Regions from separate parts of the Homo sapiens genome. Here region 2 is linked to region 1. Evidence: fine-mapped expression QTL. A gene starts in region 1. The other region holds a variant in brackets. All regions are shown on one strand. Distances are between the middles of the regions. Region 1 holds the start of TLE4 (TLE family member 4, transcriptional corepressor). Region 2 overlaps TLE4 (TLE family member 4, transcriptional corepressor).

Region 1 (8,335 bases):
ATCCATCACTCCTTTTCAAAGAAATAAAACATTATTTTTTAATAATGTCTTTAATAATAAGACATTTACAATGTTAACAGCATACAGAAAAACTGGCAAAAATTGTTTGGAGCAAGAGCAATAAAACAACAAAGAAAGCCACTAACACAAAAACATTTTTGCTTGTGACAAAACAAACAAGGTTTTGTTTTTATTTTTTTTCGATCTGTAAAAACAAAGCACAGAAAATTATACCCCATGTGGCTGAACTTTCTGAAAATTCCAATCAAAGCCAGTTGTCAAAGGCAAGTTATAACAGCCTAGAATTACAGGTTGCTAATAGACATATTCCCACAACTTCAACTGCACTGGCAGGGTGACTGTGATCTATCTTGCAGCCCCCAGCAATTTAAACATATTCTTGTTTTTGGTATTCCAAACTAATAGGCACTTTGAATCTGTGACATGGTTTTCTTACCATGACATAATGCCGCTGCATCTCTGTCTTCTCACTGGCGAGTTTCTCACATTCCAGCTTCAGACTGTTCAAGACATAAGATACTCTAAGTACAATGATCTTAACTTACATCCTTCAACTCTTAAACGCATATTCTAAATCTCACCTACAAACAACTAAATCAACAATCTTAAATAAATACCCCCATCATTATGGAAAGGGAAGGGGAAAGGGGTGATTGGAACCAGTCTGGACTTGCCCCTTCAATAAGGATCATATATGTGGTTTTTTGTTTTTAGGATTTTTTTTTTAATTAAGTTTTAAGGAAACAAATCCTCTAATCAGTTTAATTCAGGAACTTCCTCCAGAATTGAATATTCACTTAATAAAACAAACACGAAAATAAACTTCAATAATGACTGCACATACAAGCACAAATAAGTCCTCCAAAACGTCACAAGGGAATTTCTTTAATGTTCTACAAAGAGATTAATGAAAATATGAATCAAGCATGTCTTATGAATGATATCTTGTTTTTTTCCCTCCAAAACACACAGACAAGTTGAATACCACCACCCAGGGGCAAAGTGTCAATCGGGTTCAGTGGTTTGTTTTGGTTCTTGCATTTATGAAATAAGAATTAGGCATCATTAAAAAGCCAGCTAAAGAAAAATGTCTCAAAGGCACCCTAAGTCTAAAAATCGTCTATAAGATGAAAACATTTTTTTTTTTTTTAGCATAAAAGTAATGAAATCGCTCACTCCGACTTCCCTGGGCTCTCAGCTCTTCAGTGGAATGGCAGAAAAAAGTGAGAAGGAATCAAGTCCGGAGTAATAAAGAACCAAGGATGTCAAAAGGCCCCAGAATCTTCCCAACCTTTCATTCTCCCGGCCCCAATAAATCAATATCGAAAGTTTGGCCTCAGCGTTTTCCAAGTCTCCCCAGTTTCGATTGTTCTGCCTTCTTTTTATTTACGGTAGAAGAAATGTTTAATTTATTTACACCTGCCTAAGGAAGGAGGCCTTGATTTGCCCTTTCTGCCCACCGAGAAAAAAAAATAATACCTTTGTGACGCCCCCACAAAAAAGGAGGAGGGTAAGTGTTTGTGTGTATTTGTCGGGGAGACAAGAGCTAAGCAAACAGAAGGATCAGCTAAAGTCAATATCGTTACCTGTGGTATTGAGCCTGTAAAAACTGAAACTCTTCCTTAATCCGATCACAGGATTCGGAAATTGTAAATTTAAAGGGTTGAGCAGGCTGATGCGGTGCCTGAAGAACAACAATAAAATATTTAATTAGCCCACATCACAGGCGAAGCAGGGAGACGGAGAAAACCTACTATGCGGCGTTAGCGGGGGGTGAGGGTCATCGCGCACGCAAGCAAAGAGAGATTAAAACTCTCCTCCCGCAACCCTCCTCGCGCCCAACAGCCCAGGCAGAGGCTGGTTTCGAGGTGGTCCTGGGGCCCCGCATACTCCCGCCCGCAGGCCCCCGCGCCCCGGACCCCGAGGGTTCGAGTCCCGTCTCCCCTCCCCGGCCAAAGACAGGCACCCAGGGACCCGCGCGCCGCGCCCACTCCCTCCTCACCCGGAATCGAAACTGGCCCGTCGGGGGGACCCGCGCCATGGCGTCGGGCTGCGGTCAGGCCGGGGGAGGAGGGAGGCGGCCGCCACCCTCTCGGCTCGTTCGTTCGCCCGCTCGCCCCGGCGGCCCGCGGCGCGAGGGGCCGGCGCCCCGCACTTCCAAACCGCAGCCAGCCCAGCAGCGCCGCTGCCGAGGGCGCCCTCCCCGCCCGGGCGCGGAGTCGCGCCTCCTTCATCGCTCGCCACCCCCCCTCGAGGAGTCGCGGCGCGGGGACCGCAAACGGCTCGGCGCGGCTTCCAGGGGCTTCAAAGACAACAATAAGAAAATGGCTACAACTCAATTGCCTCTCCGCACCCCCTCCGAGGGCCACCGCGCCGGGGGGTGGGGGTGATGGCGGGCGGGCTGCTCCCGGCGCGGGGCGCCGATTTCGGGCGGCTCTCCACGCCCCTCCGGCCAAAAGACACAACTCGGTGCGCAGGGGGCGACGCGGGGAATCCCCCAGCACCCGGCGAGCCCGCGCCCCGCCGCCCGCACTCACTGGGTGTCTGGTCTGCGGGTACATCTTGCTCAGGTCGCGAATCATCCAAGCCGATTTAGTTGGCTGCGCTCGGCAGAGGCGCGCGGCTCATTGGCTTTAATGACCCCGAAGAGGAGGCGGCCGCGGCAGCGGAGGCGGCCGGCTCGGTCTGAGGGGCGGCTCGGGCGGTCCCGGCCCCCGCCGGGTCTCGCGTGACACGGGCGGCAGGAACGCGCGGCGGCGGCTGGGTGCCGGCTGCCGGGCCGCTCCGCATTCCCCGCGGGCGTCACTGGCCCGCCGCGGGCATTGTCCGGCGCGCGTCTCCCAAGGCAACGCTCCGACGTTCGCTCCGCCGAGGCGCACCCGCCGAGCCCGGCGCCGCGGCCGCCGCTCACCCGGCCGGGAAAGTGCGGGCTCCGCGCCCCACCGCCCGCCGGCAGCTCCTCTCGCTCGCTCTGCGTCCCACTCCAAACTTTTTTTATTTGTCTTTTAATTGGTTGTTATTCCTCCGAATGAATGATCTTTCTTCTTCCCTAAAAGCAAACACAAACTCCTTTGGTTCGGAAGAGGTCTCGGCGGTGCTTTTTGGTTTCTCTGGAGATTTTTTTCACTTCACAGCAACGATCTTTTAAAAGGCACCTTTTAGCTTCTTTTACCACATCTCATTTCCTTATTTCTCTTCCTTCCTGTTTTCTTGTCTTTTTTTTAACCCCAAATTGAAGGGGATTATAAAAATAAAAGAGTGAAACGCTTGCGGCTTTTTTTTTTAATTCTCTCTCCTTTCAAACTCTGCGAACACCACCTCAAAATAATATACAAGTGTGTGAGAAAGGGGGAAGAAAGCAGCCAACAACCCAAACACCCGCTCAGCACAGCTCTAACAACACGCTCTGTGTAGGTGACTTCTTTGACCAAATTTAGCAGCAGCTAATCATTAACATTCTGATACATATTCACAATCTTCCGCGGGGCGGCCGCGCAGCATCCCGGGAGATGTAGTCCGCCCCGGGCGACCCTGCCTGAGAATACGGCCAGATTGACTACAATCACCGGCCCGCCATGCGAGCGCTCTGGCGAGCTCTCCAAGCGCCCCGCCCACCCCCGTTGCGGTAGGCGTCTCCACCAACCAATCAGAGGTGGCTGAACATTAATCGCCGTTCTGTGTTAGTGCCCATCATTTCACTGCTGACAAATGGCAAGCCAGCGGGGAGGAGCCAACCCAGCTGAAACCCACGTGGGGGCCGGGCGTCGCCTGTAGCTCCGACCAATTAACGAAGAGGAATGAGGTTGGCGGAGGCGGGGCGGAGATGGCCCGCCCAAGGCGGAGCTTCGCCTTGGCTGACGTTCCTTAGCGCGAGCGTTCGAACCGGGAAAACATTTGTTCAGCTGTCAATCAAAGTAACGTGGGGCTGGGAGAATCGGCGGCTGCTGCTGTTGCTGCTGCCCTGGCTGCATCTTCAGAATTAGGTGTTGGTGGTGGTGGTGGTGGTGGCGGCAAAATAAAGAGGGTGGAGGGAGCGGTGAGCCTGGGGGCTGGTCAAAAGATCTTCTTCCGAGTCTCGTCCTCCCGCCCACCCGTCTCCCAACCCAGACACCTTCGGCCCCTCGCTCCGCAGCCGCGCCAGGAATGCGGACTAATTAGGGTCCAATGTCTCCTTAAAGAGACAAGCTCGGCCTTGTGTAACGCGCCGAAACCCCTGTTGAGACAAGAGGGGGAGGATCACGCTGATCTTACTTCGTTCGGTTCACATCAATTTTACGCGCCGCTGGAGCCGGCATAATTTTCCGTGTGAACGCGACTCGGTCCCCGTTCTTGTTTAGAGCCAGAAATGGAGTCGCGAGATGCTGGCTGGGGCCGGGGCCGCGGGGTGGGCGGGGAGCTCGTCCCTCCAAGCCCCGCGGGGGCTGTGATTGCCATTTAGTTCCGAAACAGGCCTCCCTCCCTCCACCCCCGGAGGCACTCGGAGAGAAAGCGCATCCCGACGCTCCATCGGGGGTCGCGGGGGGCAGTAACCGTGGGGGCTCCGGGTGGGGCTGAAGATCCGGGAATCAGAGACGCTGGACCTCCAAAGAAACTTTGCCGACTGGGCCACGTGAACCCCGAACACGGTCGGTACTGAACAGAGCAGGCCGACGGGGCACGGGTAGAAAACGCCCCTGCGCGCCCTGGGACGTTCCCTCCCCCAGATCAGTACCAAGACTGCGCCTCTTTTTCCCGCTCTTTGGAGAAGCAAGTCAAGTTTATCCCCGTTAAAAACAGAGCAGGGTGCCACGCGGGCCCGAGAGATGGCGGAAAGGTGGGGGTGGCCCCAGGGGCAGATGCTGGAGGAGGAGAGAAAGGGGCAGCCATGGCTGAGGAGGGGCACCCCTAGGGAGGGGCCTGGGAAATGGGGGCGGCCTCCGTCAGTGCGCCTTTCCATCCTTAGTCCGTGTCCAGCTGGAGGCAGCGCCCCAGTTCAAGGGGAGGCTGCTGAGGCTCGCAGTCTTTTCTAGCGAGCGGCTAATCTTGGGGACAGGGAAAAAATTCGGAAAAAGTCAAGAAGAGTGTTGGCTAATGTAACAGGCTGGGTTTTAGACGTTTATTTCTATGCGTGCTTGCCTACTGTAACTTGACCTGTTGGTTGAGATGGTGCCGCCGGTTCGGCGTTAGTGGAAAACTATTCTTCTTAATGATATCCCTTTCCTCAGTGGATGACTCGGTGACTTAATGTCCAACCTAGCACGTTCTGTGAACCTCCTTCCGTTCTGGCCACTGTAGTGAGCTGGTGCAAAGGAAGGCTATGGTGGTCTTCACCTGCCTCTAATTTCATACTAAAAACCCAGAGCCAAAGTTCACAGAATGTTTCAATTCGGCAAATATTTTCGCCTCCATCCCCAAAATAAGAGGACAGAGAAGTCCTTTTGACAGTTTTCTGAACCTCTGCTGTTCCATACCTAGCCACATGTGACTGTTAAGCACTTGAAATGTGTCCAATTCAAAATGAGATGTGCTGTAAGTACACATATATGTGGCATTTTGAAAAAATTAATGTGAAAAAACTGCAGCTCAATAATTTATAATTATGTCAAAATTGTGATATTTTGAATAACTCAATTAAAAATATTAGTAAAATTAATTTTGTCTGTTTCTATTTATTTATTGTATTGATGGGGGTCTTCCTGTGTTGCCTAGGCTGGCCTCAAACTCTGAAGCTCAAGCTATCCTCCTGCCTGAGCCTCCAGTGTTGTTGGGACTGCAGGCACACACTTTTTTTTTTTTTTTTTTTTTTTTTTGAGACAGAGTTTCGCTCTTGTTGCCCAGGCTGGAGTGCAATGGCACGATCTCGGCTCACCGCAACCTCCGCCTCCTGGGTTCAAGCGATTCTCCTTCCTCAGCCTCCCGAGTAGCTAGGATTACAGGCATGCGCCACCACACCCAGCTAATTTTTTGTATTTTTAGTAGAGACGGGGTTTCTCCATGTTGGTCAGGCTGGTCTTGAACTCCTGACCTCAGGTGATCCGTCCGCCTCGGCCTCCCAAAGTGCTTGGATTACAGGCGTGAGCCACCGTGCCCAGCCTCTTTTTACTTTTTTAACTTTGTTCCTAGAAGATTTTAAATTATGAGGCTTACATATTTCCATTAGACAGCCCTGCCCTGAAACCTTCCCAAGAATCAAAAGTGAGAAGACTTTAGTGATACAATTTGCACACGAGGACAGCGAAGTTTCTAAGAACACCAGCAACAACCATGTTTTATTCTAAGGTTGGTTAGTTGCTTGCTCCCACTAGAGCTTTTCAATGGTTTGTGAAATCACCCACAGTGCCTCTGTAGGAAGTTCCATGTTCTCTATTTTAGCCAGAATGTTAGCAAGTTCCATGAGAACAGGGACCTGGTTGTGTTCACAGTTGCACTCCAAACTCCCCAAATTATGTCTGCCATCACTGTCTGGTAGTTGGTGCTCAGTAAATATTTGTTGATGGCATTAATGAATGAATACCTCATTGCATCCTTATAGGAAGTTTCCACATCATTTGGGTCATATTTATTGAAATTCTGTGCAGTTTTCTCTCAGGACAGGAAACGAGAATTCTAAGAATAGAACCCGAAGAACTATTGAAAGGGTCAGTGGACAAAGAGGAAACTTTGCTCTGTTAGGAAATATCAGATCACTTATAGCAAGGATCTTTCCCCTAATCTCTCTCGATGGTTTGTGTCAACAGGAAAGTGGCTAGAGAAGTCAAGATGTTTCTTTATTTTTTAAGTTCTGTATTAAAATATAGCCCTTGGATGTGTTTCACATTTTGGCCACGTGGCAGAGCTATGTAACTCACCTCAATGTCTCAGAAAGATGCAAATGCAGCAACTGGCGGCCCAGCCCTAGCCGTAACACAGACTGTAAGTGGGGCTCATGGCCACTTTTTCTCCTTTTCTCTGCTGTGCTTCTCTCATTGCACTTCTCGCTAACTGTTGAGCCAAGCTATGATGTTATCTGGAGGCCTGTCTTATCCCTACCACAGAGTGGGGGGTAGGTGGGGTGTTCCAGAGTTTTCATGTGGGAGGCACTTGGCAGCAACTTTCATGTTAAAAGCTAGGCCTGAAAGCTCCAATCTTGAAGTGACATATGCCAAGCATGCTTTTCACTTTGGTTAGATGTAAATCATTTATTTATTACTTCACCAAATATTTATTAAACCTACTATGTGCCAGAATATGGGGATTTCACAATAAAAGTGGCTATTATTAATATGTTGCCTCTTAGCTCCAAATTCATCCTCATTGCCTGCCTAGTGAAACTGAATCTGAGCCCTTTAAATATTTTCCAGCTGTTAAAAAAGCTAGGTCAATAGAAGGCGCTGGAGAGACATTGCAGGAGGAAAGGGTTTGGTTTCCTGGTTCCTGGCTCTGGTTGCATACTGGGCAGGTTCCTACAGCACAGGTAGCAAGCAGCAGCACCCAGCAGCCAGCAGCTTCCTCCAGAAGCCCCTTAGGTGGCTTTGGAGCAAGTGCCTCTAATGAGTCACCTCCCTCAGCAGCTTTCCTTGGAACCCCAGAGAATGGATTTCCAACGAGTTCTGGAATGTGGATTTCTAGCAAGTTCCAGAAGGCAGAATTCTAGCAGGGCTCTCCTGCTATTCAGAAAGTTACAACTGTGCCCTCTCCAGCAAAGTCTGGATCTCAGCCAGCCCTAAGAGTGTGTCTGTGTCTTGGAGGAGCTCTTTTTGAGATGCTGTATCTCAGCCCTAGGGTTAGTAAGTAGCTGTTCCTTATATCTCTATTTCTGTATTATTTAGAGCTCTCTTTACCTCTTACCAATCTCCCTTTGATCCAATTCCCTGTTATAGGTAATAATTTTTTATATTGAACTTTCCTTGTTGAAATTACTGTTTTTCTCTCTTGATCGGATCCCGATTGATACAGTAAACAACATAAGCAAAGTGTCTTTCTTGCTGGAGCTTACATTCTGATGGGGGGAGATAGACAAACAGTTGCATAATATGAAGGAGTGACAGGAGTAGTAGAACTAGTTCAGATGGGAGTTCATAGAAGCCTTCTTGGAGGAGGTGACATTTAAGCAGAAGCCTGAATGCCTAGAAAGAGTCAGCCAAAGCAAAAATCACTGAGAAGCAAATTTCAGGTGGATTCAAAAGCCTCATTTGAGGAAGTGTTGGTGAATGTGAGCATTTTTTAAAGACTGGTACATGCTAGACACAGAGTAATATAAGATTAGGTCATGGCTACATCACTGGGTTCTGGTCACATTGAACTTCTTATGCCTAATAAAAGCTTTCATTTTCTACTCTGATTATAATAGCCATTG
Region 2 (8,335 bases), 130 kb before region 1:
TGTGAATGACCCTAACCCAGGGTAACAAAGGGCTGATCTTGGAGAGTAGTAGAAAGAATATCTGAAAATCTCTATGGAAAAAAAGTTATAGGAAGAACAATCACCACTGGAACGTCTCTGTCTGGCATGCAAATCAATTCAGAAAACTGGTCAGGAAAGCTCTTCCTCATTTATAAATTTATTTCATATAAGACTAACTCTTTGAACGGGTTTTTTTTTTTGCTTTATCTTAGTCTGTTGGTAATAACTGATGTTTATAAAAACATACAACATTTACGAGGCCCTTTTAATTAACTATGAGAGAAAGTGTGTTACCCAGAACTTTTGGGTCTATGTTCCATTTTATTTCCACTGAGCCTTAATGTCACAATCTCTTTTGTGGCATTTCTGAACTTCCAAAGCACATTGTTAAGAAGATTGATGGTCTTTCTTCATACCTGTGGTGATGGCAACTCTTTATTACAAGCTCCAAAGATGTGCAGGTGGGAGTTTGGTGGGGGAGAGAGATGGGACCAGTGAGTGGGTGCCCACTGGGCGGGCTGGGGACCTCTAAATCCGTCCCTGCTGTGCCAGCCCCTCTTGAGGTTTTATATGAATACTCTAGCCCTAGACCTATCAAACGTTCAGCCTTAAACTTAGTGGCAGAAAAGACTGCAGGCATTATTCAGTAAGGCTGAAGATTGACACAAAACATTACGAGCCAAACGATTTTTTAAAGTGGACTACTTCTTGACTTTTGTGTATCTCTGCTGAGTTCCAAACCTCACTCCCAAGCCATGAGACTTGGGTCAACACTTCTGCTTTGCTTTCACACAACCCAATGCACTCAGTAGGTTTTCATGACCACTGAAACCATGCATGCAATCATCATCTGTGGGTTACTATCTACCATACTTCATGCCTCAATCCCGTTTCTAGTTTTCCCCTCTCCAGTCTATCCACCTCACTTCTGGAATTCATACTTCCCAAAGAGAGGTTCAGCCTGTTTTAACTCCTCTTTTAAAAGGACAGTTTCCTACTGTTCACAGGGGGAAAAAAATTCCAAATTTCTGAGTATGGCTGTTTTCCAAAGTCCTCACTCCACACCCCAATCCAGAGTCCTGGCCTTGTATCCTACATCAGCACTATAAGCCAGTGTTCCCCTGGGCTCTGTGTATTTTCGTTGCACCTGTAGCCTTTTTTCCTGGCTTATGGCAATGACTATTTTCTCAAGATCTATCTTTTGAAATCCCCCACTATCCTTAAGAATCAGCTCTAATGTCACCTTTCAAAGCTTCCTCAGATGCTGTCAGGCAGAATTAATCATTCATTCCTCTTTGTTCCCTTAACATTTTGTTCCTCCAATGAGTAAAGCACTCACAACAAATTTATTGCTGTGTTTACAAGGCCACTTCCCACTTTAGGCTGTGGGTTCCCTGAGGGTGGGGCACCTAGCATCATGAGCAGAAGGGAACTGCCCAGAAATATTTCTCAACACAAATGGCTGAACATCCCCTCTGCACGCCTCAATCTCACTCCAAATCTCTTATGATACATTCCTTTTCTGAGCATCACTAGGATGAACAATTCCATGGGAGACCATTCACTAGAGTAAGATTTGTGTTGTGGTGCCCTTGGAATCGGTAATATGGCAATTCAGCCCCTTCCTCACCTTTGCTCCTTTACTTACCTTTAGATGCACTAAATCTGGCTAATTTCATATTTTACAAAAAGAAGAAAAATGGAGTATATATATCTTTTATTAACAATTCTCTGATTCTGCTATATTCTATTGAAAGTTATTTCCACATTGTTTAAGAGGAAAAATTTCTAAACAAAACAATTTCTTAAAAATACTAAAAGGTAATGCCTATTTAGATTTAGATTTTATGTTCATTTATTGGCTCATATGTACAACCAAATACTTTATATTTTTCTTAAGCTAGCTGTTTCCGGTTTTGCAGGCAGCGTTGTATTTTTGAAGTTGACTGTAGAACAGAGTTACATGTTGGAGTTTCTTGGTAGAATGATAAAGTAGTTAATTATCACTAGCATTTAAAGGTTAAGCTGCACAGTGGGCACTGGGGCAATCAGCAATGTTCTAATAACATAATTACTCTGGAATCAAATTGGACTTGGCACAGACTCTCATCATGAATCTTGTAAGTCCACCATTCTGCCACAGGAATGCCACTTGGATCTTTGCTAGGCATGTGAATAAGAGGAATTAAATAAATACCGATAAAGTCATGCTTTTACTAGAAAAGCTTTTTATTTTATTATTTTTTATTTCTCTATTATTATTTTAAAAGCTCAATTTAGATATTTCTCAAGTTTACTACATAAGAAACTTACTGAAGCTGCATTGTGACCCTATAAATCTACAAATTTAGAAGGATTAAACACAAGTCTTTCTCACTACAGTTTGAGTGTGCGTGTGTGTGTGTATGTGTGTGTGTATCTCAGCAAATCTGTTATGATTGGAGAGTCACGGTCACAAGCAATGGCTGATCCAGAGAAAGCAAAATACCCTGAATGTGAATGTTTAGTAAAGCTCTGGATTTTAAAAGTAAACACTTATGCTGGGATATTTAAAAAGAACAGGGTAGATCTGTTTAAGAAAAAGAGCAGGAAAACAAGGAGAAACCAAGAAAAAAATACTAAAGGATTAAAAGACTTATTACATGGAAACCCCAATTGCTTTGGTAGCAAAAGGTAAGCTTTAAAAAGCTATAATCAGGTTCTAATTTCACTATGAGAAGATTCTAGTTCCTAGATTAAAGACCATCCCAGACTTTACTAGGGCTGTTGACCAAGTCAGATGGAAAACTGACACCTCCAGCAACTTGAAAGGGAAGGCCCCACCCCTCCACCTTTACTCCTCTGCCACCTCAAGATCAAAGATGACAATGTATGAGAAAGACTTCTATAAAGTAACTTCCCCCTCCAAAAGAAGATGCTGTTGTTATAATTAGCTAATTTTAATAACAGGGAGCACAGATTTTAATAGCAGGCAAGAGCATCTCTCTGGAGTCAGACTGCCTGGTGTGAGTCTAGAGTCTTCACTTAATAGCCGTAAGGGATGTTGCTTAGTCTCAGCCTCTCTTTAGTCTGGGGTAACAACACACCATTCTCAGCCCCACGGGCTGCTTTGAAGACCAAGAAAAATAATCCACATAAAGTACAACGCGCAGTCCCAGGCACATAGCCTAGCCCCTCAACAGTGCAACTTAGTCCTATCACTGTATACTGGACTCCAGTTGATTCTACTTACTTTAGAGATTGGGATGGTGACCTAGTGTGGATCTTCTATTTTAAACCTTATGTTAGGTCTTTTCTAGACATTTGTGTAGGACTTCCCCCAGCATAGATATTCTGATGCCCCATAATTATAGGGTTTTAATATGCTACTATTCACCAAAACTTTTCTCCTTTCAACAATCACGATAAGGTTTTGGTTCAATACTGCACAGAGGCAAGACTGCAAATACCATCTCCACAATGGACTTTCTAATTTGATTTCAAATGCACACCATGCCAATTTTGCTTTCCATTCACACAGGTGCAGTGCTTAGACTTCCCTGCCCATAGACGATAACAACCAGAAAGAACATGCTAAAGGTCGCATGGAAACCATGATCAAGCAGCCTAAAACTCATTCGTTATGGCTTGTTTGCTCATCAGCTATGGCCTTCAAAAATCGTATCCACACGGTACAAAAGGGTAAATCAGTTTTCAAACAGATAAATGGGATAATGAGGAGTCAGAAGGTACCACTAAAATATGTCAAGGGTAATTGCAAGTCCTGGTTTGCCCTTTCTACACCTGTTGTCCAGACTTCCCTTCACTCTCAAAAATGGCCAAGTTTAGACGATAAATTA[T/C]AGTTACTCTTAACTATAGTTCAGTCACTATAGGAATTCTCAAACATTAATCAGAGTCAGGGACGATTCAAGTTGAGTTTGTTTTTGGTGATGGGGACAGGGGTGGAGGCACAGAAGACAGAAAGCTGAAGAAGGCCCCTGTAGATCCTTTACTGATGCCATAACCAAAGTCCTCAATCATATTTTCCTCTGCAACCCCTTAGAAAAGCAAAAGACCCATGTCAAAAATAAAAATGAACACTGGTGACTCTATAGTCATGAATCATCCAAAGAGTTGATCATGTTCACCAGACCACAAAGCACTGTATTTCTGTTTTTTTGGAACTACTTTGAGTAAGTTTGGAAAGTAATATCCTGAATAAACCTACGTACATCAAACTACTGTTGTACCATAACCCAGCTAGTTCTGCTTGGATTTTATTGTACAGAATTACACAAAATGTTTATTTTCCCATTCATTGAGCTCTTTATAACTGATAAAACATTTTAACATATTATTATCTCATTTACAGGGAAACCACCAGGATATACATATATATATATATATGTATATATATATAAGAAATAATCCTCAATTGGAAAAAAGTAAATATAAAACCTTTAAAATGAAAATTACTTGGTCAAAATGCACAAGTCTCACATACTAACACATAACACATGTAAATTTATGTAAATGAACTTAAAATTTATAGCATGCTGGTGGTAAAAAACTTGAATATAGTAGAGCTCTGACTGAGCCAGTCACTGGTGTCAGTTTACTGCTCATCACAGTAAGAGGTTTTTCTTTTTTATAACCTGCTTGATTAAGGAAGTCATTAAAAGCACAATCTGTATAAAACTCTCACAGAACTTGCTTTTTTCAAATTAACATAAATCAAAACTCACCTTCAAAAATGACTGGGACTTTCTAAAGCCCTGCCCTTGTTAAAAGAAGATTTAATATAATCTCCATATAAAGTAATGAATCTATTCTTAACAAATGTTTCACCTTCTGTAACATTTCATGAACAATATATTCTTTAAAATGTTCTATTGTTTTTGTCTCTGCTTCTCTACTGGTAAGAGAAACCTGGATCAAGGTAAATTTCTTTTGCAGGTAATCAAAATATTATCAAACCAGAGGAACCAACAGTCAGAAGAATAACAGAAGAGAGGCAGTGTCTACAATGGTTATGCTACAGGTATAAAAGTCAGACAGCCTTGGGTTCAAGACCAGGCTGTAACACTTGCTATGTGACCTTGGGAAAATTCATGAACCTCTTTAAGCTTCCATTTCTCCAGTAGGTAAGACGAGGGTGTTAGCAGCACTTCCTTGTAAGTTGCCATAAGGATAAAGAAGAATTCAACCTAGCATCTAGTACTAGTAAGCCCCCATAGACAGCTATTCCCTTTTGGCAAATGTGGAAACAACCGCATATTTTTTGTCTGCTTATGGACTCATTCAACAAGTATTTAACCCACTAAGTACAGAAACACATGAAATGTCTTGAATAAAATATTAATACACACCTTGAAGAATGAAATATACACCTTGTTTTTCAGTAGGGCTCCTTGAGTCAAAATACTTAGGATACAAAAGTATTACATATTTTTTTCTTCATGTGTAGTAGAAAATACAGCACTTCAATATTAATTCATTCATGTTCTGTTTTCATGGCCTCAGCATTATGTATTGCTTGGTCAGTATAAAACGCTCTAATAATTTATAAGATATCAATAAAATTGATTTTAAATTAGAACATTATCTTAATGTCCTCTCGGGGGTTTCTTCACTGTTGCTTCCTCTTCCTGGAATAAAGCTATTGGCTCCACCCCAGAAATTTCATTGAACACAGTTACTTTAGCTGACAAACTGAGCTGCTGGGACATGATGCTTTGATGCCAAAGACACAGGGTTGATTCTTATGTAGGGAGCTTAGTTGCCCTCTCTTGAAAGCTAGTCTGCATGTGGTGCAAGTGTTGGGCCACACAAGGAAGAAAGTAGATGAATGAGTTGGAACAAGTACAACCCCTCACCACTGATGGAGAGAAGAATCCAAAGTACAAGCTGAATTAATCAAGTAATCCCTCTCCTGATCATTAGAGATGGCATGGTATTAACAGTCTAACAGAAATTGTAATAAAAATTGCCAACTGCATACAACTTTGTATTGTGTTCATCGTTTAAACTACCTATCACCCCAAAGTCATTTCGCACTTTTCAATCCAATGGACCTCCTCAAAGTTTGCAAAGTCTAACATTTCTGTGTCCATTTGTTCTCCAGCAAGAATTCTCGCTCTCCTTAATACAAATTCTATAAATCTTGTATGCTAACTCTGTAAATTACAGTTACATGCACTGGCCACTTTCTTCTGGAATTATTTTTTTCAGTATATGACCTGTAAAACATATCATAAACCACTCATTCACCTACTGCTTTATAACCAATGTTACTAAGTCTCACTGGCAAATCTCATGTGGTACATGAGTTTGACTGCCCTAAAAACAAAAGTGGAGAGGGTTGGCAAAAATCTCTTTCCTGGATGTTCACGGAAGGTGCACTGGCTTTATACCTATCCCTGCACTGTGCTCTGTTTTTGAATGAAAATATCAACACAAGCATAACAGCTGCTTTGACAAAGCTGAAGTAGGGTAACAGCTCAGAGAAATAAGTTACTAAGCTTTAGGACTTGGCAAGCTGTATCTTAATGGACCAGAATCTTCATTTTAGTAACTATTAACATTTATTAGAAAAGAAAGTCTTTTCATGTTGCTATTTTTTTTTTCCAGTAAACTGCTTTAATCTATTTGAAAGGCTAAACTTTTTTTTCCAAAGAGTGTTAACTCCACAGATTCTCATATATATTCTTATGTATTCTGTATGCAAATATACTCTATACAATGTCTGAGGGTAATACAACAGGAACAAAGAAAGAAATGACAATATATCAATTTAAAGGAAGGCTGCCTAATAAGTTTTAAGGTCGCTAATCAGGAACTCTGGTCTTCTTCATATCACCACAAAAGGGCTAAACAGTTTTCAATTATCGCTTAACTGATTGGTCTTAAGGGCCTTCATTAAAATATTAAAGTTATTCTTTAGAATGGCGCTGACAGACAGAAATATAATGTGAACCACCTATGTATTTTACACTTTTCGGATAGTCAGATTTTTTTAAATGTATAACAGTAAAATTAACTGTGGTCATCTATTTAATCCAATACTTCAAAAAATACCATGTCAATACACATATTAATATGAAAATTATGTGACATTTTACATTTTTTTTAGTACTAACTGTTCAAAATCTGATGTGCATTTTATACTGACAACAGTACACCTCAATTTGGACTGGCCACATTGCTGCTGCTGAAAAGCCACATGTGGCTTGTGGTTACCATGTCAGACAACACAGGTCTAAAAGTTCTCAGAGTCACAACAGAAATCAACACCCAATAAGACAAACATCTCACACTTGATATAAGTAGCAGGTGTCATCTAGCTCCTGCCCACCTTCTCCAATCTGATCTGAAAATTTCCTTCTCAGAGCATCAGACAACCCAAACGTTTTCATCCTTCAGAGCCTCTGTGCAGACTTCTGCCAAGAACTCTCTTTCCCAGCCTGAGTGGCTAGCATCTTTTCATCTTTTATGTTTCAGCTTAAATGTCACATCTTCAGAAAGGTCTTATCTGTAATGCTATCCAAGGAGCTCCCTCCAGCCGATCTCTAACACACTCCCTTGTGTGCTTCCTTCCCAGCACTGTGGCTGTGGCTACTCTTTTGATTATTTATCTCATCTACTTGACTAGAAGCTCCATGAAGGCAAGGACCACGCCCGTTTGGATCACCACGAAAATCCAGTACTTCGGTGTTTTAATTGACAGCTGCTGAACAAATGAATGGGCACAAAACTTGGTTCTGCTCATGTATGCTTCATGTTACCATATTATGTTCATTATATTAAGATAGGAGATTATGCATTCCTAAAGGTCATGCACTATTGTGTCTTATTTCTTTGCATCCTCAGTGCTTAATATAATGCCTGTAATACAAGAACAGTGGTGTGTGTGTGTGTGTGTGTGTGTGAGATATGCATTTGTAGGCACACCAAAGGAGGGAGGCAGCCTTCAAAAATAGTAATTTTGAAAGTAATAGGGTGACAAGATAATTTTCAGAACTATGTTGAAAAGACAGTTAAAGCTGGTGCCTTTTCACTGCTGCTCTCCTCACCAATCAAGGATGCAGGCCCCTCCCCCAAGGTCAGTGCCCAGTCCTGGCCACTGGGTGGGCATGCAATGAATATTCATTGTTGGATAAATGTATGAAGGCCACCTTTTTAAAAATTGTAATAGAAATTAATCTTTCCTATAAGAGGGAAAGTTTTCAACAGGTTATCCCTTTCCTTGTCTCTCATCACACACTCCTCAGCTGTCTGTGACCACAGGGAAACAAATCTTACTTAAGTCTGACCACTGAAAAGACAGGATTTAAAG

The links.
Region 2: its variant is fine-mapped to the expression of TLE4 in whole blood (INTERVAL, PIP above 0.99).

Annotation. Positions count from the first base shown.
Region 1 is chr9:79,567,059-79,575,393 of GRCh38, reverse strand. TLE4 (TLE family member 4, transcriptional corepressor) reads right to left here and starts at 3,429. Exons shown (of 20, transcript NM_007005.6): 1 at 2,559-3,429; 2 at 1,608-1,705; 3 at 458-521. The coding sequence starts at 2,603. It overlaps LNCARSR (lncRNA regulator of Akt signaling associated with HCC and RCC), which reads left to right and starts at 7,442. Exons shown (of 3, transcript NR_184113.1): 1 at 7,442-7,762. RefSeq lists silencers at 1,818-2,057, 2,078-2,547, 2,658-2,817, 2,878-2,997, 4,908-4,957 and enhancers at 1,888-2,500, 3,228-3,317, 3,358-3,407, 3,418-3,547.
Region 2 is chr9:79,694,945-79,703,279 of GRCh38, reverse strand. All of the region lies in intron 8 of TLE4 (TLE family member 4, transcriptional corepressor), which reads right to left. Among named protein-coding and RNA genes, the nearest start is that of LINC01507, 130 kb to the left of the region's middle. The variant T/C (reference allele first, on the strand shown) is at 3,861.